Regions from separate parts of the Homo sapiens genome. Here region 1 is linked to region 2. The links come from fine-mapping of genetic effects on gene expression. A gene starts in region 2. The other region holds a variant in brackets. All regions are shown on one strand. Distances are from middle to middle. Region 1 overlaps AK2 (adenylate kinase 2). Region 2 holds the start of AK2 (adenylate kinase 2).

Evidence for each region.
Region 1: its variant is fine-mapped to the expression of AK2 in whole blood (TOPMed, PIP above 0.99). The same link has a PIP of 0.9 or more in blood mononuclear cells.

Annotation. Positions count from the first base shown.
Region 1 is chr1:33,007,479-33,017,507 of GRCh38, forward strand. AK2 (adenylate kinase 2) reads right to left here. Exons shown (of 6, transcript NM_001625.4): 5 at 7,044-7,116; 6 at 508-5,924. The coding sequence ends at 5,703. Among named protein-coding and RNA genes, the nearest start is that of AK2, 24 kb to the right of the region's middle. The variant C/G (reference allele first, on the strand shown) is at 5,484.
Region 2 is chr1:33,031,507-33,041,535 of GRCh38, forward strand. It overlaps AK2 (adenylate kinase 2), which reads right to left and starts at 5,377. Exons shown (of 6, transcript NM_001625.4): 1 at 5,230-5,377. The coding sequence starts at 5,322. RefSeq lists an enhancer at 5,196-5,355.

The DNA of each region.
Region 1 (10,029 bases), 24 kb before region 2:
GCCACCTTATCCAGAACCAGGAGATAATCGTGGAGGACAAGAGATGGGAACCGGCTCCTTCCCCCAACATAACTCACCCCTCCAGCCTTTCTGGAATACGGGTGATTCCAGGAGCTATGCAAATCCAGCACATTGGAACTTTAGTACCAACAATAAGGAAACAACGGAGGATGGCAAAATAGAAAAAGGTCTTACCTGTGGCAGGTCCTTCACTGTAACAGAGCAAACCTACTTGAGTTTCTCCTTTTGTTTGGATCCATGGCTCATAGCCTTTTCTGTATCATGAGTGCCTTTGAGATCATTTCATCTCTCCCCAGCAAAGTGTCAAAGCAATTGGCACAGTGTTAAGAGGCTGGGGTGTGGAGCCAGACTTGGACTCAGGCTCTGGTTCTGCCATTATCAGATGTCTGAATCTCAAAGTCTACAGACATACCATAGAGATAATAGCAATACTTACCTCCACAGGGTTATCGAGGAGAATAAATGAGATAATGCATGCAGAACCTCTCACACAGCTAAGAATTTAATATGTTAGACTATTATTAATTATGAAAACACATAAAGAATTCTGCATATAATTTCAGAGGTCTATGATTTCTAGGGGATCCTTAGCCTGGTTCCGGATGGTCAGTAAGACAACTTTCTTCAATGCCTACATTTTCCCTCTGAATTCCATCTGTGTTTACTAAGCATCTGCTGTGTCCTGGGCAGTCCAACCCACATGAGTATCTTGGTCACTAGTGTCATCAGCACCTTTGAGGGGTAGGGATCATTCCTATTCTACTGATGAGGTGAGATAACTTGTCCAAGGTCGCATGGTGAAGTCGCTGTTGAAATCTGTCTTCTGACTCGTTGCTCTGTCTTCATCTGAGGAAAGACTTGTGAGGCTTCTGAGGAGGCTGCTCTCCATCCTGCTGTGTTCTGTCAGTGACACTTTGTGCACACAGGAGATCCTAAGACACATACCCTAGGCCCTCAGAGCCGGCAGTGACTTCTTCAAAATCAGTTCCGGCAGCGCTGAGTGTCCATGGAAAAGAGCTCTTATTCAGAGCAGCCCTTCCTGTGTGCAGAGCTACGCAAGTAATTAAATCACTTCAGCAACAAGATCAAGGGGACGGATAAGTGTTAGAGACTGTGTTTCAGTCCTGACTGCCTCTTATGCATGACCTCAGGAATGCCACTTCACCTCTCTGAGTCTGGTTTCCTCACCTATAAAAGTGAAGGACAGTTCTGACTCCACAGGGTGCTGTGTGAGGGTTACGTGAAGTCGAGGGTTACATGAAGCCTTTGCATAATACCTGGCACAACGTCAGTCTTCCGGGAGTGGTAGGACTAGTCTGCATTCTTGGTTTGCAGATTAGATGAGGAAACCCAGGCCCAAAGAAGCAAACAAACAATAGCTCACCCAGTCTTCTCTGTTTATTCTTCTCAACTACACCATGCTGCTTTGCAGGTTGGTTTGACAAACATTTCCCCACAATTAGATGCATGATGACCAAGGGAGGAAAGAAAATTTTCACAGGGTATTTAAAAAGCTCAGGGAACAAACAGATCAGTGCAAATCAGTAAGGCTAACACCTGAAAATGACTCTGCACAGGTGAGGAAGTGGAGCAGAAGAGGGAGGGGCTGGTTCAGGGAACAGGATTTAATATGTCAGTGAAGACCCTGCCTCTCTCTGTAACAAGATGCCTAAAGAAGAATAGTGGTGCTTCCAGCCCAGCTCCCTCTTGTTTTGGGAACAACAGTCATTTCTCAGAAACCTCACTTGCAAAGGCAGCCCTTCCAAAAACATGAGAGCTTTAGTTTGGAGAAATTATTTAAGCTCACTTTTGCTGGAGAGGAAATGAATTTAAACTAGGACACACAGAGAAGCAACAAAGAGTGTTAAAGAAGCAACTGAAAAGGTAGTCAAAGATCTGGCTTAAGGATTAGAAGCACTGGCTTTCTAGACTATGGACAAGTGTCCATTCAACAGTTATCCAGCCTGGCAGGAAGCAGATATCTTTCTGTGTATATCTGGATCCAACTAACATTTATCCAATGTCTGTTGCATGCCAGGTACTGAGCAAAAACCTTCTTCCTATAAATTTCATTTAATGCCATTAAGGCCAAGAAGGTGGCATAACCAACTTCCTTTTTCAGCTGAGGAAACAGGAGCACAGTGAATAACTAACTGGCTGGGATTTGTCCTAGGTCCCCTGAACTCCAAGCACAGTGCTATCTCCACTAGACCAAGCTGCCTTGTCTCTGGGCTCAAGAGAAGCCTGCATAGGAGCTGAAGGTCAAGAGGTTGCAGGCTTATCTCATATGCACATACTTGGACCTCCCTACCACACAGCTGCCAGCGACAAGAAAGGGCTTCTTTTCCTTCCAGCCAGGTCCAGAATTCAATGTCATTTTTCTAGCTTAGATTATCTAAAAAAAATGCCACAACAGGGGATACAAATTTTAACATATTTTATTGATTTAGGGGCCAAACAAGGCAGCATTTGGTCAGTTAAGAAAGGCACCTCATTGAAAATAATACATCACAGTGCTGTTGAGTGATCCCAGTCACAGGATTTGAGAATGGAAAGGACAATCTTTGGATGACATAGCTTAGGACACTTGCTCATTTATTTAAAAGAGTCCCTTCACACAGTGCAGATAAAAGAAGGCAAGAGCATAGGATTGTGGCATGTGCTGGGTAGCTGTGAGAGGTTACTCATGAAAGTAGGTAGCCTAGTAAATTAGTGGTAAGTCAGGGGAAGGGAATCAGCCTCCCTTTCCATTTCATTCCCTTCCCCCTCCCCTTGATTCCAGTTTGCTTGATTTGTTGAGCCACCATCCCTATGAATACACCTTACATCTCTTTCAAATGTGGAGATGGTTTTTTGATCTTACAGTGTGTGGAACCGGAGTCAGTAATCAAAGCTCCCTGTTCCAAGCTATAGACAGACAGGACAACAATTTGATTTCCTGTACTCTTGGTCTGGAACCCATGGGGTTCTGAGATAAAAGCTGAGGTCTTAGAGCACTGGCTTTAAAAAATATTTTCACCAGTCCAGAGTAAATGAAAACCCGATTCCTTAGAAATAATATTGTGTCTATTTCTACCCCCACCCTCCAAGCATGGTGTTTTTTAAAAAATTAATTTTTCCCTTACACTTTAAAAACTCTCACCTATGTATAAAAGAAACTGCCACACTACAATAACACTGCTGTTGTTCCAAGTATTCCTCTGAGCCCCTCACCAGCCCTCCCTCACCATCCTCACCCTGACCACCCTTCCCCTCTGCCCAGCACCTAAGAGCAGGGATCACGCCGCGGGGTGATGAGCAGTGTTGCAGTCTCGCCTGGCCTTCTGATACTAGGCTGAAATAGAGAGGAAACAAGAGAGAACAAAATGGGTTTTTAAAAACCAAGTACATATCAGAGGAGGCTGGCATGTAAGCCCCAGCAACCAAATGCATTAAACACTGGACATTTCTGTGACAGGTAAAAGCAGAACCTGCTGAGGCTGAGGAACTCTGGAATTAAATGAAGCAAAAACAGAATCCTAACCATACTGAGAAGGGTATATGCATTCCCTATGAATCTTCCAGTTCTTATGGGCAGCCCAAATATTACTTGTACATGTTGTATGCACACGTGAATCTATGTGGACGGATGACAAATATTTGGGCAAGGATCATGCACATAAAATTAGCAAACATTCAAGAACCTCAACTTTGAGGCCAAGTGCTTACAATTGTCCCTAGTTAAAGGGGAGCTGATTCTAAGATTCATGATGCCACTGTCACCCAGAGAAGGATCCCAGACCAGGCACACATAGCTGACAGTTTTTGTTTCACTCCTCTTCCTTGCCCATTCCCAGAAGTCATGTGCTTCCCAGAAACACACAAAGCCAGACTGAGTTTCCATTAAGAGTGGGTGGAGTTGGTTTAGAGCCAGGAAAACAAGGCAGGACAGAGGCAGCAGACACTCACTTGGACCAGGCAAAGAGGGAAGCAAGGTGGCCAGGTACTCATGCCCAGTTGCCATGTGGACAGCAGATAAGACCTCTGGTAGTCTCACAGATGGCAGGAGAGCTCAGGTCAGGAGGCTGGGCACTTTAGAGTCCACTGAATCGAGTCAGCAGCAGATTATGCTGAGGCTGGCGATATTATTTACTGGATCTGCCACTGACTTTCTAATGGTTTTTCCAGAGGCTGCCGTTTTTGTGGTCCTTCATAGCAGTCTGTTACTTCATCTGTTTGCCACAAATCAAACCAGAGACCAAAAGACAGCAGGGACCTTAGAAAATGCTCAATAGTTGGGAAGCTAAGGTTATGAATAAAAGCTGGTAACTGTCACAGGTGGTCTTATTTCTGGGTGATCTTTTCTTGGGGAAGTCCATGGCTATAGCCATCATAAAATTAGGGGTGAAGGGTTGGATCTAGAAAGGAGAGGGTTTGGGCTTAAAAAGAACATATCTGATTTCAGTTTTATGTCCTGGAGAGAGACTGGGTTTGAATAAATACTGATCAAAATGAATCCAAGAATAGATCACACACTGTTTTGTTCACACTTGGAAACACAGGCAAACATTAAAAATAAAAGCAAATAAACCTACCCTGGTCTCTTTTTGGGGAAGTAGATTTGACTGCTCTCAGATGATCAGCCTGGATGTTCAGAAGACAATCTGAATTCAAAAGGACCTTTCACCTGGTTTAATTCTCTGGCAACAATTCAGTTTTCAAACCCAATTCCCAAATAATTGCTATTTTCAGCATCATGATGCAGATCACAAAAATATTCCAATTTGGCCTGGCTCTTTTTATGACGATATCCTCTCCCAGTAATTTCTGTAACCTGCAAAGTAAGTGCCTTTTTCCTTCCACCTAGGGGGAAAAAATTAATGATCCCTGTTCACACACTGACTCACGTGGGTTTTCATCATGGGTTAGAAAACAAAATGGAATTCTCTGTCCATAATGTGCCATCAGGAACTGTGACCCTGCCTGACTTCACATGATCCTGGACTTCTAATCAGCTGCTGGAAATGGAAGAAATACTATGAGGTTCTGGAATTGCGGTCCCTGGAAGATTACCTGGGTTAGTTCATTTTGGTCAAAAAATAAAATCAAAAGTATGGTTAAAGAAGTAAACAGCTGGGCTGGGTGTAGTGGCTCACGTCTGTGATCCTGGCACTTCAGGAGGCCAAGGTGGGTGGATTGCTTAAGCCTAGGAGTTCAAGACCAGCCTGGGCAACTTGGCAAAATCCTGTCTCTACAAAAAATACAAATATCAGCCAGGTGTTGTGGCATGCACCTGTAGTCCCAGCTGCTCAGGAGGCTGAGGTGGGATAATTGCTTGAGCCCCAGGAGGCAGAGGTTGCCGTGAGCCAAGATCACGCCACTGCACTCCAGCCAGGGTGGCAGAGCGAAACCTTGTCTCAAAACAACAACAAAAAAGAAGTAAACAGCTGGTAAAGCAACCTAGCCTAAAACTTACAAAGTAG[C/G]AGAGTGAACACATATGTGCATGCACACACACACACACACAACACACATACACACAGATGAGAGTAGCACACACGCCAAAGATACATCAAGCAAGTGCTTTTTTAATCAATACATCAAATGATATTTTTGCTAGCCTGAGGAAGCTTCTCTTTGCCTGTCCTATCATTCCCACCCATTGCCTCACAGGGATGGAAAGAAATTCCTTCTTGGACCCAACATTAGATAAACATAACCAAGTCTTTACATGTGGCTTTGGAGAAGGCTGCTAGGATGCTTGCGAACACGACATCGGGGGTCTGGGATGCATCGATGGCGGAGTGGATCCCCCGTTTCCTGTAGTACTCTATGAGTGGGGTGGTTTGAGTGTGGTAGGCTTGCAGGCGGATTTTCAAGGCCTTTTCATTATCATCTGATCGACGGATCAAGGGTTCCCCGGTGATCTGAGAACAGGAAGACAGCAATGAAAGGCTGGGACTGTTAGCAAGGTTTTCTTATTCCATGCCAGATGCAGATTTGAGATGGGACCATTCTGCCCAGGATGCTGTCTGTTCCCAAAGCCCATCAGAGACAAAGACAGGCAATCCAGACCCTCTCCAGTGAAGAACTTTGCTACTCCCAGGAGCAGAGCAGCTGGTGAACAGAAGTCAGAGAGTTTGTCAGAAACACCAACTGTGAGGAAAGGGGCTCATGAGGGGAAGATAGGCAATGACTTTCTCATCTTTGTGCTCAGGCGATTCAGCTTCCAAGATAAACACTTCTAGGGTCAAAAGTAAGGAAGTCAAAAAGGCCCCTAAGACCAGAATACATCAAAATCAAAGATACATTAGCAATTGTAATCTTAGTTGCTTAAATATTTAGTGTATTTACTAGAGTGTCACCCATCAACATTCTAAAAGTGGCAAGTAAAATAAGAACTTTCAATGGTAGAATTAGCAACTTTGCAAAATGTGACTAAGTTGCCATAACGGCTCTGGAACCTGTATTTATAGAACCTGAATGACCTGATGAACTTGTTTCATAGGACAAAGGTAAACCCAGGAAATTCTTACTGTTGCCTGCATGCTTTAAAACAAACCATATAGACTCTTTATGGCAAATGGTGCAGTGACCATGTATGAAACCCCAGGACACAGTACAGCAGCAATAACTATAAAAAGAATATTTTTCTGGAGGACTGGTCATCAAACTTCTCTTCAGTGCCACACTCTTCCCACTCTCCAATTGTAGGCTTTTAAGAAAGCTTCTCCTGATTAGCTGATCACTTAGGTGGCCATGATGCCAGAAAAGGGGCTGCTCTTGACAGAAGACAGGTACAATCTGGGCACTGCAAAAAGCTAGCACCACTGGAAGCAACCTTGAGGCCAAGCAATAAACCACCTGAGGAGACACTGAATAGATCTGACACAGGCCATGTGATTTACTTGATAGTGTTATTTTTCATGACTAAGTTAGTAATATTGGTAGAAATAAAAGGAAGATGGAAAGAATAAAGGAAAAAGAAAAACAGTGAAGAAAGGGGAAGGAAAGAAAAGGAAATTTTTTGTCCTGAGTTTACATACGTCATCTTTCATGGGCTCTTTTGGAGGGTTGAACTCCTCGTGGTAGGAACGGCCACTCTTGGGGTGAATCAGCCTGAAAGACAGCAAATGAATATGAGTTAGGTTAACTGACAGTACGCGCCTGCACTCCACTCTAGGGGGCTCCAGAATGACAAGCAGAGATAGGGACGCTGGATGCAAGGACCCAGCACCCAGCAGAAAATCCAGCTAAATAACTGGGCTTCCAGGAGAGCTTATGCCAGCGGCAGAGTATATTTTCTATTTTGACCAAACATTATTATGAGTATCTGGCTGAAGAGCAAACTGCTGGCATAACTACCTAATTCAGGACTTGAGAGAAGGAACTCTGGTGCTGGTCTCACACAGCCATCCATTCTGTTCACCCATTTACTTAACAAACATTAATAAGTATTCCATTCAAGCCTTAAGCTGAATTCAGAAGCTACAAAGCAATGAGTAATGATCCCTGCTCACAAGTAGTGCTTAGTGGGAGAGACAAATGTGGAAATAAATAACAAACGTGATAATCCTTTAACAGAGATTTGTACAAAGTGCTATGGGGGACAGAGGACAAAGAAATGAACTCTATTTTCTAACCTAGTTTGGTTACAAAACCAGGAAGGTACTAACAGGAAAAATAATTCCCATGGATGCAAACACTGCCAGATAATGGAACACATCTTTTCAATCACACAGATAAAAGATAGCCTAACCCTTATGGAGCAATATTCAAGTAATCGGGAAAAATGACTTATTAAACAAGTCATGGAATATAGAGCTCAAGAACAGGCATTTATTTGGCACTGAATGTATAGTGGGCAGCTGCATCTGTGCTGAGTCCCTACAGACAACAAGCCCATGTTCCTGACTGGGAATGGCCACACCACAGGAGCCTAGAAACCTAAGGAAAGGAGGCAGGCCAAGCTCTGCTCAGCAGCCAGGCCTTGCTTCACTTCTGTGGTTTCTCAATTCTCTGCCAACCAAGTGTTTGTTTGCTTATTTAACTAATGGTTGCTTTTCTCATGAAGGTCTATTAGACTAGAGCTCCCTAATATTTTTCACCATTTGGCAGGCATAGCAATATTTGGGCCGGGCCCAGCAGCTTATGCCTGTGATCCCAACACTTTGGGAGGCTGAGGGGGGCAGATCACCTGAGGTCAGGAGTTCGAGACCAGCCTGACCAACGTGGCGAAACCCCGTTTCTACTAAAAATATGAAAAATTTAGCTGGGTGGCAGGCACCTGTAATCCCAGCTACTTGGGAGGCTGAGGCAGGAGGATCGCTTGAACCTGGGGGTGGAGGTTGCAGTGAACCGAGATCATACCACTGCACTCCAGCCTGAGTGACAGAGCAAGACTGTCTCAAAAAAATAAAATAAATAAAAATTCTATTCAATTCTATTTAGACTATTGAAGTAGCACCTCTGTAAAATGTGCTACTTTCTTTTTTGTTAATCACAGCATATTTTGGGGGGACAAGATGGTCCATTTGGCATAAAGTGGCACTGGGTTATGGGCAGGAGGGAGGTGACAGTAGAGAAAATAAGCTATAGAGTCATCCCTTGGTATCCATGGGGGGATTGGTTCCAGGAGCCCCCTCTGTGGATACCAAAATCCATAGATGCTCAAGTCCCTGATATAAAATGGTACAGCATTTCCATATAACCTATGCATATCCTCCTGTGTACTTTTATTTTTATTTTATTTTTGAGACAGAGTCTCCCTCTGTCACCCAGGTTGGAATACAGTGGCGCGGTCTCTGCTCACTGCAAGCTCCGCCTCCTGGGTTCACGCCATTCTCCTGCCTCAGCCTCCCAAGTAGCTGGGACTACAGGCGCCCACCACCAAGCCTGGCTAATTTTTTGTATATTTAGTAGAAACGGGGTTTCACCGTGTTAGCCAGGATGGTCTCGATCTCCTGACCTCGTGATCCACCTGCCTCAGCCTTCCGAAGTGCTGGGATTACAGGTGTGAGCCACTGCGCCTGGTCTATTTATTTTATTTTTTGAGACATGGTCTTGCTCTGTTGTCCAGGCTGGAGTGCAATGGCAATGACCATAGTTCACTGTAACCACAAACTACTGGGCTCAAGTGACCCTCCCGCCTCAGTCTCTGGAGTAGCTGACTACAAGCATGCGCCACCATGCCTGGCTAATTCTTTTATTTTATTTAATTAATTTATTTTATTTTATTATTATTTTTTGAGACAGAGTCTCATTCTGTTGCCCAGGCTGGAGTGCAGTGTCATGGTCTCGGCTCACTGCAACCTCTGCCTCCCAGGTTCAAGCAATTCTCCTGCCTCAGCCTCCTGAGTAGCTGGGATTACAGATGCCTGCCACCACGCCCGGCTAATTTTTTGTATTTTTAGTAGAGACGGGGTTTCACCATGTTGGCCAGGCTGGTCTCGAACTCCTGACCTCGTGATCCACCCACCTCGGCCTCCCAAAGTGTTAGGATTACAGGTGTGAGCCACCGCGCCCGGTCTAGTTTTTTAATTTTTTGTAGAGATGAGGTCTCACTATGTTGCCCAGGCTGGTTGTCTTGCATACTTTAAATCACCTCTAGATTATGTATACCTAATACAATGTAAATGCCATGTAAAGAATTGATATACTGAATTTTAAAATTTGTATTATTTTTTCTTTTCTTCAGCTTTCCTGGGTTATATTTATTGGTGGTTTTGTTCTGAATATTTTTAATCCACAAATGCTTGAATCCGTAGATGAGGGAACCATGGATATGGAAGGCCAACTGGACAGAGGAGTAAAGGTTCCTGTGACTGCAGTCATGTACTGTGAGGTTGCACCTTCCATTATTTGAGTGCCTGGAAGGATTCCTCTGATGCATTCATTCAGAAATGGCATCCACTGGGAGACCCAGGGAAAGGAGAGAGCAGGCTGCTGGGCTCAGCTGCAGCAACTTTGGGAGGGGCTAGGGGCATGAGATACGGACCAGGATATTTTTTTACCTTCTAGAGAGCACAGGGC
Region 2 (10,029 bases):
CCCTCCTGACATGCACACGGTAGGAGAAAAATCTAACCTGGGGCAGTAGATAGCAGCAGAAAGAGCAGGAGCTTTGGAGTCATTCAGATGCAAGCTCTGTAAATTACTTGCTATGTAGCCTAGAGAACAAGCCATTCAAACTTCAGTTTCTCCAACTGTAAAAGGGGAAATAAGAGTGTGGGTCTCAGAGATGTTGCAAGTATCACTGCAATGACATAACTGATGCATCTGACCCATAAGACTGCCTAAGCGTGCCTGGCCTCGAAGAATTGGGCATAAGTTTGACACATGGAAGAAATGAGGAGGGGTTGGCAAAAAAACCAAGAAACATACCTTTGGTTTTGACCACACCGAAGGAGCATCCAACCCCAAAAGGGAGGCAAGGAAATAAAGTTATTTAAATAAAATAACAAACCCAGGTATTATAGATGTTTTAAAACATTACATTGATGCAAAAGCGAGTAGTTTTGAAATATTTAACTACTTTAGTTAAAAGTGAGGAGTTTTAAAAGGAAACATTATTTCAGTCATGCAACATAAAGCACATAAAATACTGAGTTACGCAGGTATAACAAAGTATAGCAGGAAGAAAACAAACATTACTGAGCAGGCACTAGGCACTAACCCCAGGTTAGGGATTTTACATGTAAGATTGCAAACATCTGCCAGTGGGAGCCAAGCAGGCAATGCAACTGTATGAAATGAGTCAAATGTAAGCAATGGGCAGTGAAGAGGACCGTGCAGGGGACAGGAAGACACACAGACCATCCAAAGCAGCAATGCCACACAACTGCAAGTGACTGCTGCCACACTGGAATGGAGGCATCACTGCCAGGTCTTCTGGTTTCTCAAGAGAAACTGGAGCTCTGGATTTTTAAGAGAAATTGCATAACCGAAAACGCTCTGTGGTCAACCTACTATTTTGAAAGCTGACAAAGAGAATAAATCAAGCATTTATCCTGACTTTTCTATACCAACCATATCACGGGGTAACGAAACAGTAGATGAGGGGAAGTTTCTCTTTATAGAAATATTTCAGCTAATAAATGACCAGGGAACAATATAATTAGAATACCACCATTTCACCATCCATAACGAATTACTGAACCTAGACACTGAACAGCATGACTATAAACACCAGAGACAAGGAAATACCATGTGCCTCCTCAGGGAGAGCACAGCACCCACCACCTGTGAAGTAGTTGGGCCAAAAAATTGAACCTAAATTGAATTAAGTATATACTAATTAAGTATAAACCACCAATTTACAGGAAATAGAGAGGGCAGAGGAAGATGTTAAGTACACCAGGGGAATACAACTGAAAATTCCCAGAGAGTGGTATAATACTCCCAGGAAAAATAATCCAATTTCTGGGGCTGGACATGATGGCTCACGGCTATAATCCCAACACTTTGGGAGGCCAAGGTGGGCGGATCATGAGGTCAGGAGATCGAGACCATCCTGGCTAACACAGTGAAACCCCGTCTCTACTAAAGATACAAAAAATTAGCCGGGTGTGGTGGCAGGCACCTGTAGTCCCAGCTACTCGGGAGACTGAGGCAGAATGGCGTGAATCCGGGAAGCAGAGCTTGCAGTGAGCCAAGATCACACCACTGCACTCCAGCCTGGGCAACAGAGCGAGACTCTGTCTCAAAAAAAAAAAAAAGAAAAGAAAAATAATCCAATTTCTTCGGCAAAACCCCAGGAAAAAAAGAGAAGGGGAACTTATAAATTAAAAGAAAGGATGGGCACAGTGGCACATGCCTGTAGTCCCAGCTACTTGGGTGGCTGAGGGAGGAGCCCGGTAGTTCAAGACCAGCCTGAGCAACATGGCAGGACCCCCATCTTTAAAACACTAGAAAAGTTAGCCAGGCATGGTGGCATGCACCTGTAATCCCAGCTATTCAGGAAGCTGAGGTGGGAGGACTGAGGCTGCCGTGAGCTATGATTGGGCTACTACACTCCAGCTTGGGCAACTGAGCAAGACTTTGTCTGTAAAAAAATAAATAAATAAAAGAAACTTAAAATTATCACATTGGTAACACAAAAGAAAATTTGAATAAAAATTGTTGATTTTTTAAAGGATATTATGCTTATGTTTTTAAAAATTATCTTTTAGCAATACATACTAATATTATTTACAAATGAAATGTTATGATGCCTGGGAGGTGCTTTATAATAATTTGTGAAGGGAGAATGGCTAGAGGAGCGAAGGCCACCAGTTAATGGTTGGGGCTGGGTAAGGGCTCATTATGCCATCCTGTCTTCTTTTGTGTATTCAAAATTCTTCATAATAAAAAGTTAAGGTGTATGAGATGTCTCTGCAGGCTAAATGTTATTGTAGGCTACCATTTGTAAAGTCTGATTTAAGATCTTTTTTTTTTGAGACAAAGTCTCACTCTGTTGCCCAGGCTGGGGCGCAATGGTGAGATCCCAGCTCACTACAAACTCTGCCTCCAAGGCTCAAGTGATCCTCCCACCTCAGCCTCCTGAATAGCTGGGACTACAGGCACACACCACCATGCCTGGCTAATTTTTGCATTTTTTTGTAGAGATGGGGTTTCGCCATGTTGCCCAGGCTTGAACTTTTTTTTAAACTCCACAAAAATACATACAATCACCAGTATTCCTATTGTTACAACTCTGGAAAGTGTACAGAGGTTAAATGACTTGTGTAAATCTTATCCTTTCAACTCCCAGCTCTAATCACATCTCCTCTATTTCTACAAAGCCTTCTCTGACCAACTCTCATCTTCATGCACCCTTATCAATCAACTCATTAGTATAATGTTCTTCTAAACTTCCTGAATAAATCATGTCTTACACTGAAACATCCAAGTTGAAGGAGGGGAAGGGAGATGTGTTACTAAGATAAAAGGGAGTCAAAATTTATTGAGTACCTACTATATAGCAGGCTGTCATCTAGGTTGTGGGTGCTTGATACACACACACACACACACACACACACACACACACACACATATATCATAATTTTCCAGTATCATTGTGAATGTTTAGTTGATGAGGGCAAGAACTTTATCAGTCTTGCCCAATGCTTTATATCCCCAATGTTAGGTGCTCATGAAATGCTGAATGAGCAAGGTAGGTATTATCCCCATTTTTCAGGTAAGAACACTGAGGCTCGGAAGTTACATAGCTAGCTAAATTATAAAACCCTTGTCCCAGTACTATACTAGTATAGGTTGTCCATTCCATAATTACTGAAATTATTAACTTCAATATGAGTTAAGAAAAAAATCTCAGGGCATAGTGGCTTGTGCCTATAATCCCTGCACTTTGGGAGGTCAAGGCAGGATGATCGCCTGTGTCCAGGAGTTCAATACCAGCCTGGGCAACATAGCAAGACCCTGTCTCTACAAAAAATTGTTTAAAAATTAGCTGGGCATGGTAGCATGTGCCTGTACTCCCAGCTACCTGGGAGGGTGAGGTGGGAGGATTGCTTGAGCTCACACCACTGCGCTCCAACCTGGGCAACAGAGTGAGACCCTGTCTCAAAAAAAAGAAAAAGAAAAAGAAAAACAATGAAGCATTTGAGCTACTGTTTATACTTGATCACTCACAGCAAAAGTCTGCAGAGTCTAAGATTAAACTTCCCTAAGCTGCAGATTACCCAATAAATGAGTGTGGCAGCAACAGGAAAGAGATGTCAACAACGCTGAGGATAAAGGATAAAGGGATCAGGTACAGGTAAGCTCCAAAGAAGAATCATCTCAGTCTGTGGAGAGAAAAGAAAGCTGTATTTTCTGACTTAGTGCCCAGGTCACAGGAATGAATGGAGTGTTCCAGAACTTCTTTCTTTATCACCCACATTAATCTGTGACATTCATCCACTTCCACTAACCCCATCAAGGGCCAAGTAATGTGCTAGGTGCCACAAGGGGTACCAAGAATGAGTAAGATGGTCTGTTTGCCAAGATTTTTAAAACTTGGCAAGTGCTAGGAAGAGAAAAGCGGGCACAGGGCAGTCCTCAGATTCCCTTTCATTTGGGAGCTCAGACTTCCCTCTTTGAAGCCTAACAACAGGCAAGAGCCAGAGGCTTAGGGCCCCAGGTGCAATGCCAGACCCCAAGCAAGAAGGGGACATCAATAATCCAACCTGCGGGCTTCCAAATCCGAAATGAGATCATCGATCCCAACCCTAATCTATGGCCCCATTATGTCCCAGATCTAGAAGGGGCCCAGATCCCAAGTGAGGCCCCTGTTGCCTGCTAGGGCAGATGGTAACTTCAGACTCTAACTCCATGGTTCCTGAGGTCTCAGGCTCATGAAACTCATTTCACTAATTTGGGAAAGCCACCTGACCTTTCTGGGCCTGTTTTTTAACCTGTTGATTGATAAAGTTAAAATTTCAAGTTCCCTATAAACAACAACAAAATAAAAAAAGGAAAAAATAAATAAAAACCAAAGGGAAGGAAGATACAAACAAACAAAAATAATAAAAACAAAATAAAAAAAAATTCAAGTTCCTTTTCATCTAAAATCATTTGCGTCATCCCAAGCTGCTTAGCCTTCAGTAGCCTCAGGTCCTAACTCCAAGCCAGGTCCCATGAGCACTCCCAACCCTTATTGTGGACACTACTCAAAGGTTGCGACTCATGGGTCTCCAGGCTATAAACCAGTTCTACACATTCACCCCCAACTTTCAAACAGGGAGAGCCTTAGGTTTCCTCCCATCTCAATTCAACTGGCTCACACAGCACATGTCACCTCTCACTCTGCCCCACGTGTTGGAGATGCTTCTCCTCCCCTCCCCCTAAGTCATAAATCATTATCAAAATCTCCCGACCTCCAGTGCCTGGAATGTAACCCTGATTCTGGACAATTCACCTCCAACTCGCAGGTAACCTGGGCCATAAAGCTAATTGCCTCCATTCAGCCTGTAATCTAGATGCCTCGGCCCAGGGCTCACTCTACCCCTCAAACCTTTCCAGTCTCTAGACCCTTAGTGGAATTAATCAGCCCTCACATTCCCTAACCCAACACTTCAACACTGAATCCCTCGGGCACTCCAATCCTAACTCAGACTGCCCCGACCTCCAATTTGGACCCTCTCCGAAATGCCCCACCAGAACCGAGACCCCGGCCAGCGTTCCCCGCAGGCCTTAGTCCCCGGCCCGCTCCGGGCAGGTCCAGGGCTTCTAGATCTCCGGCCGCCTTGACCTTGGAGTTCAGCAGGCTCCGCCGCCAAGCCCAGTCCTGCCGCTCACCTGGGTCCCTTTACCGGCCCCGGGAGGCCCCAGCAGCACGGCCCGGATGCCTTTAGGATACTCGGGTTCTGCCGCTGGCACGCTGGGAGCCATGTCCGCCGAAGTCTCTCACTGCCACCAGTTCGCACGCCTCACAGGTCCAGTGCTTCCCAGGTCAACGCACGCACGCCACGCACGTCCCACTCGCCGCTCACACTGGCCCATAGCCGCGTCCGTCAGCCCGTTCCGCCCGCCCCTGAGCACGACGGACTCTTCACCTTACCAACTGCACGGCGATACTGAGGAACTTTGCTTTTGATTGGACAGAATTGGTGCGGGATAAGGAAGGGGCGGGCCAGCATGTACTAAGGGTGGCGGGTGTGCGGAGTGGGCGGGAAAACGCGAAGGAGGACAGGAGGTCAGGCCGGAAGGTATACTTCGGCATTTGACAGTTGACGACACCAGCAACAACATTGAAATCCTATTAAATTGCGCGTGGGAGTTTAAATGGGTAAAATCACTCTTAGAAGACAAATTAGTAATATGTTTCAAATACCCTTTGGTCCAGCAATTCCACTTCCACGAATTCAATGGATAAAATCAAGGATATGAGTAAAGATTCGTGTAACAAAGTTGTTAATTGCAACACTTAGCCCAAAAGCCCGAGAAAAACCATAAAATAAAGGCAATACTCCAAATGTCCAACAATAAGAGATTGGTTAAATAAATTGCAACCAATTTGTATCCTGGAATACCCCTGTTGTATAAGATAATTTAATCATGCGGGAAAATGTTAGCAAAGCGAGATACAAAATTGCAGTTACAACAAAATCCGAATTTTGGCCGGACGCGGTGGCTCACGCCTGTAATCCCCACACTTTGGGAGACCATGGCGAGCGGATTACCTGAGGTCAGAAGTTCGAGACCAGCCTGACCAACATGATGAAACCCCATCTCTACTGAAAATACAAAATTAGCTGGGAGTGGTGGCATATGCCTGTAATCCCAGCTACTTGGGAGGCTGAGGCAGGAGAACTGCTTGAACCCAGGAGGCGGAGGTTACAGTGAGCCAAGATTGAGCCATTACACTCCAGCCTGGGCAACAAGAGTGAAACTCCGTCCCACTCCCCCCCCAAAAAATCCCGATTTTGTTTATTACAAGTGTAGACCGCTGTGTAGTGTGATTAGAGGAGCACCTCTCCTTTGTATATTTTAATAGATTTTTTAAAGTTCTATGGTAAATTCTTAATAAGTTTAAAAACTTAAGTTTAAAACAAGTTTTACCTTTATATTAAGAAAAACGTTAACCTTTTAAAGTCAGGAAAAGATAGTTTTTCTCAAAAGAGATGACCCTCTTGGATAGGGAAATAATTTCTACAGCTTTTTGGTGTGTGAAAGTTTCATCCAGCTCCAAGGGCCTCTTTGGACCTTTAGTTAAGAGTGTGTAATGAAACGATTATGTTTCCCCACAGGCTCCTAACAACTCATTTTCTACATCTTGATGATGAATTTGCTATCCCTTCAGCTGTGGTCTCTTCTTTTTTTTTTTTTTTTTGAGACGTGGTCTCGCTCTGTTGCCCAGGCTGGAGTGCAGTGGCGCGATCTCGGCTCACTGCAAGCTCCACCTCCTGGGTTCACGCCATTCTCCTGCCTCAGCCTCCTGCGTAGCTGGGACTATAGGTGCCCACCACCACGCCTGGCTAATTTTTTTTATACTTTTAGTAGACACGGGATTTCACCGTGTTAGTCAGGATGGTCTTGATCTCCTGACCTCGTGATCCGCGCGCCTGGGCCTCCCAAAGTGCTGGGATTACAGGCGTGAGCCACTGTGCCCAGCCCAGCTGTGGTCTCTTCCTTACCACACAGAAGTCAACATTCATTTCTCATCGCCACGCTGGACTTTTACAGTGTACCTGCTTAATCTTGTTGGATACTCCCAATGACATTGAAGGAAGAAAGGATTGTTATGTCTATTATTCAGAATGGAAGCTGAGGCCTGAAGATACGTAGTGACCAAAGTCACACAGTAGCAGACTCACAATTAAGACTGAGGATGAGCCAGGTCCAGTGACTCACGCCTGTAATCCCAGCACTTTGAGAGCCTGAGGGGGGGGCAGATCACCTGAGGTCAGGAGTTCGAGACCAGCCTGGCCAACATGGCGAAACCCCGTCTCTACTAAAATTACAAAAAAATTAGCCCAGTGTGGTGGCGCATGCCTGTAATCCCAGCTATTAGGGAGGCTGAGGCAGGAGTATCGCTTGAACCCGGGAGGTGGAGGTTGCAGTGAGCTGAGATGGCACCACTACACTCCAGGCTGGGTGACAGAGCAAGACTCTGAAAACAAAAACAAAAACAACTGAGGATGACAAGCAGGTGCCCTAGAGATTACAGGGCTTATGGGCAGAGGGATGGGAAAACAAGCTGCAGGAAGCCTCTCTGTGGCCAAAATTCACTTCAGTCCAATAAGACCAGAGTTTATTGAAATTTTCTATGCACAGGGACCAGGCAAGGGGAGTAGGAGCAGCCTTCCCTTTCTACCATCAATCCCTATAGTGATTGTGACAAGACTTAGGGCTCCCAGGAGGGAAAGTAAGGAAGACTATCCATAAAGACACAAAGTGTAAGATTTATTCAATACACTTTGAAGTGTAATGAATCACAAGTTAAGTCTTTTTTTTTTCTTTTTTGAGAAGGAGCCGCACTCTGTCACCCAGGCTGGAGTGCAGTGGTGCAATCTCTGCTCACTGCAACCTCCGCCTCCTGGGTTCAAGAGATTCTCCTGCCTCAGCCTCGTGAATAGCTGGGATTACAGGCGCCCCTACCACCCCCGGCTAACTTTTGTATTTTCAGTAGAGATGGGGTTTCACCATGTTGGCCAGGCTGGTCTCAAATTCCTGACCTCCGGTGATCCGCCTGTCTCGGGCCTCCCAAAGTGCTGGGATTACAGGAGTGAGCCACCGTGTCCGGCCAGTTCCTTTTAAAATTTATTTTCTCTTCTCCTTTCTTCCTGCTCCCACTTCTGATTTAATCTTTGAATTTCTTTGAATTTCTAAAGAAGAAATTTTACCAACTTCTTCACCAGACACTCCCTTCAAGGCAAGTTCATCTAATTCTTGGAAAGTTAACAGAGCAAAGCATGCCCGCTAGGGAACTTTCACCTTGGAACTTCTACCCTCTGGGGGATTGCTTCGAACTCACACCTACCAAGAGGGAATGTTGAAAGCGTGTCCACTTGGCCACTTTTATAACTTACTTCTGCCCAGGAAGGCACTAAGTCAACTGCCCAGCAGTTAAGCCACCAGAGCTAACGGAGACGCCCTCCCCCTGCTTACTTCCTCCCACCACCTTATAAAAGGCCCGCTTTCTGCTCCAAAAGGGAAGTGGCACATTTAAGGCAGGATGCTTCGTGCCATTTCCACAAGCTAGCTTCAAAATAAATTCATTTTTTCGTCCCAGACCTTGCTCTTTTTAACTGGACTCTGAATGTTGTGAGCAACTAACCTGCTTTTCAGTTACAAAATGATGGTAGCCTCTGAAGTCAGAAAAGGCAAGGAAATGGGTTCTCCCCTAGAGTCTCCAAAGGAACATGACCCTGAAGATATTTTGATTTTAGCCCCATACGACCTATTTTGAACTCCTGACCTCCAAAACTTTAAGGTAATAAATTTCCGTTCATATAGACCACCAAGTTTGTGGTAATTGGAAACTAGCAGCCATAGGAAACTAGTACATATTCTTTGGATACAAGCAATAGAAACAGACTCTAGCTACATCAAGCAAAAACAAAATTCGCTGAGAGGATTCAGTTGTACAACCACAGGCCTTGGAAGTGATAGGAGCCAGGGCTGCGTTGGGTAATCTAGATATAAGGAATAAGTAGGCCAGGTGTGGTGGCTCACGCCTATAACACTTTGGGAGGCCAAGGCGGGCGGATCACCTGAAGTCAGGAGTTCGAGATGAGCCTGGCCAACATGGCAAAACCCCATCTCTACTAAAAATAGAAAACTTAGCTGGGCATGGTGGCGCATGCCTGTAATCCCAGCTACTTGGGAGGCTGAGGCAGGAGAATTGCTTGAACCAGGACCTGGGAGGCAGAGGTTGCAGTGAGACAAGATTGCGCCACTGCACTCCAGCCTGGGCTACAGAGCGAGACTCCGTATCAAAAAAAAAGAAAGAAAGAAAGAAAGAAAATTCCACACTAACAGGTGGTGTGGTGGCTCTCACCTGTAATCCCAGCGCTTTGGGAGGCTGAGGTGGGAGAATTGCCTGAGGCCAGGAGTTTGAGACCAGCCTGGACTTGGTCTCTACTAATAATAAAATTAGCCAGGCATGATGGTGCACTCCAGTAGTCCCAGCTACTTGGGAGGTTGAGGTGGAAAGATTGCTTGAGTCCAGGAATTCAAGGCTGCAGCCAGGTATGATTGTGCCACTGTGGTTGAGGTGGAAGGATTGCATGAGCCCAGGAGTTCAAGGCTACAGCCAGGTATGATGGTGTCACTGCACTGCAGCCTGAGTGACAGAGCAACCTTGTCTCTGAAAAAAAAAAAAAGAAAAAAGACAAAAATCCACACCTGACCTCACGTGACAGGTTGCAGTCAAAACACAGACATACAACACAGTTTTTTCAGCATCTCCAGGTATTATTTTGATGATGCTACTATGCTGCTTACTTACCCTGAACACATTACTTTTTCACTGTATTAATGGTCTTTTTTTTTAACTGATAAATGTGAATAAGTGTAAGAAAAATGATACAGCATATAAATTCAGAGTCATGAATGATGGTGACGCCGAACAACCACAGATTTTCCAGAGGGGTG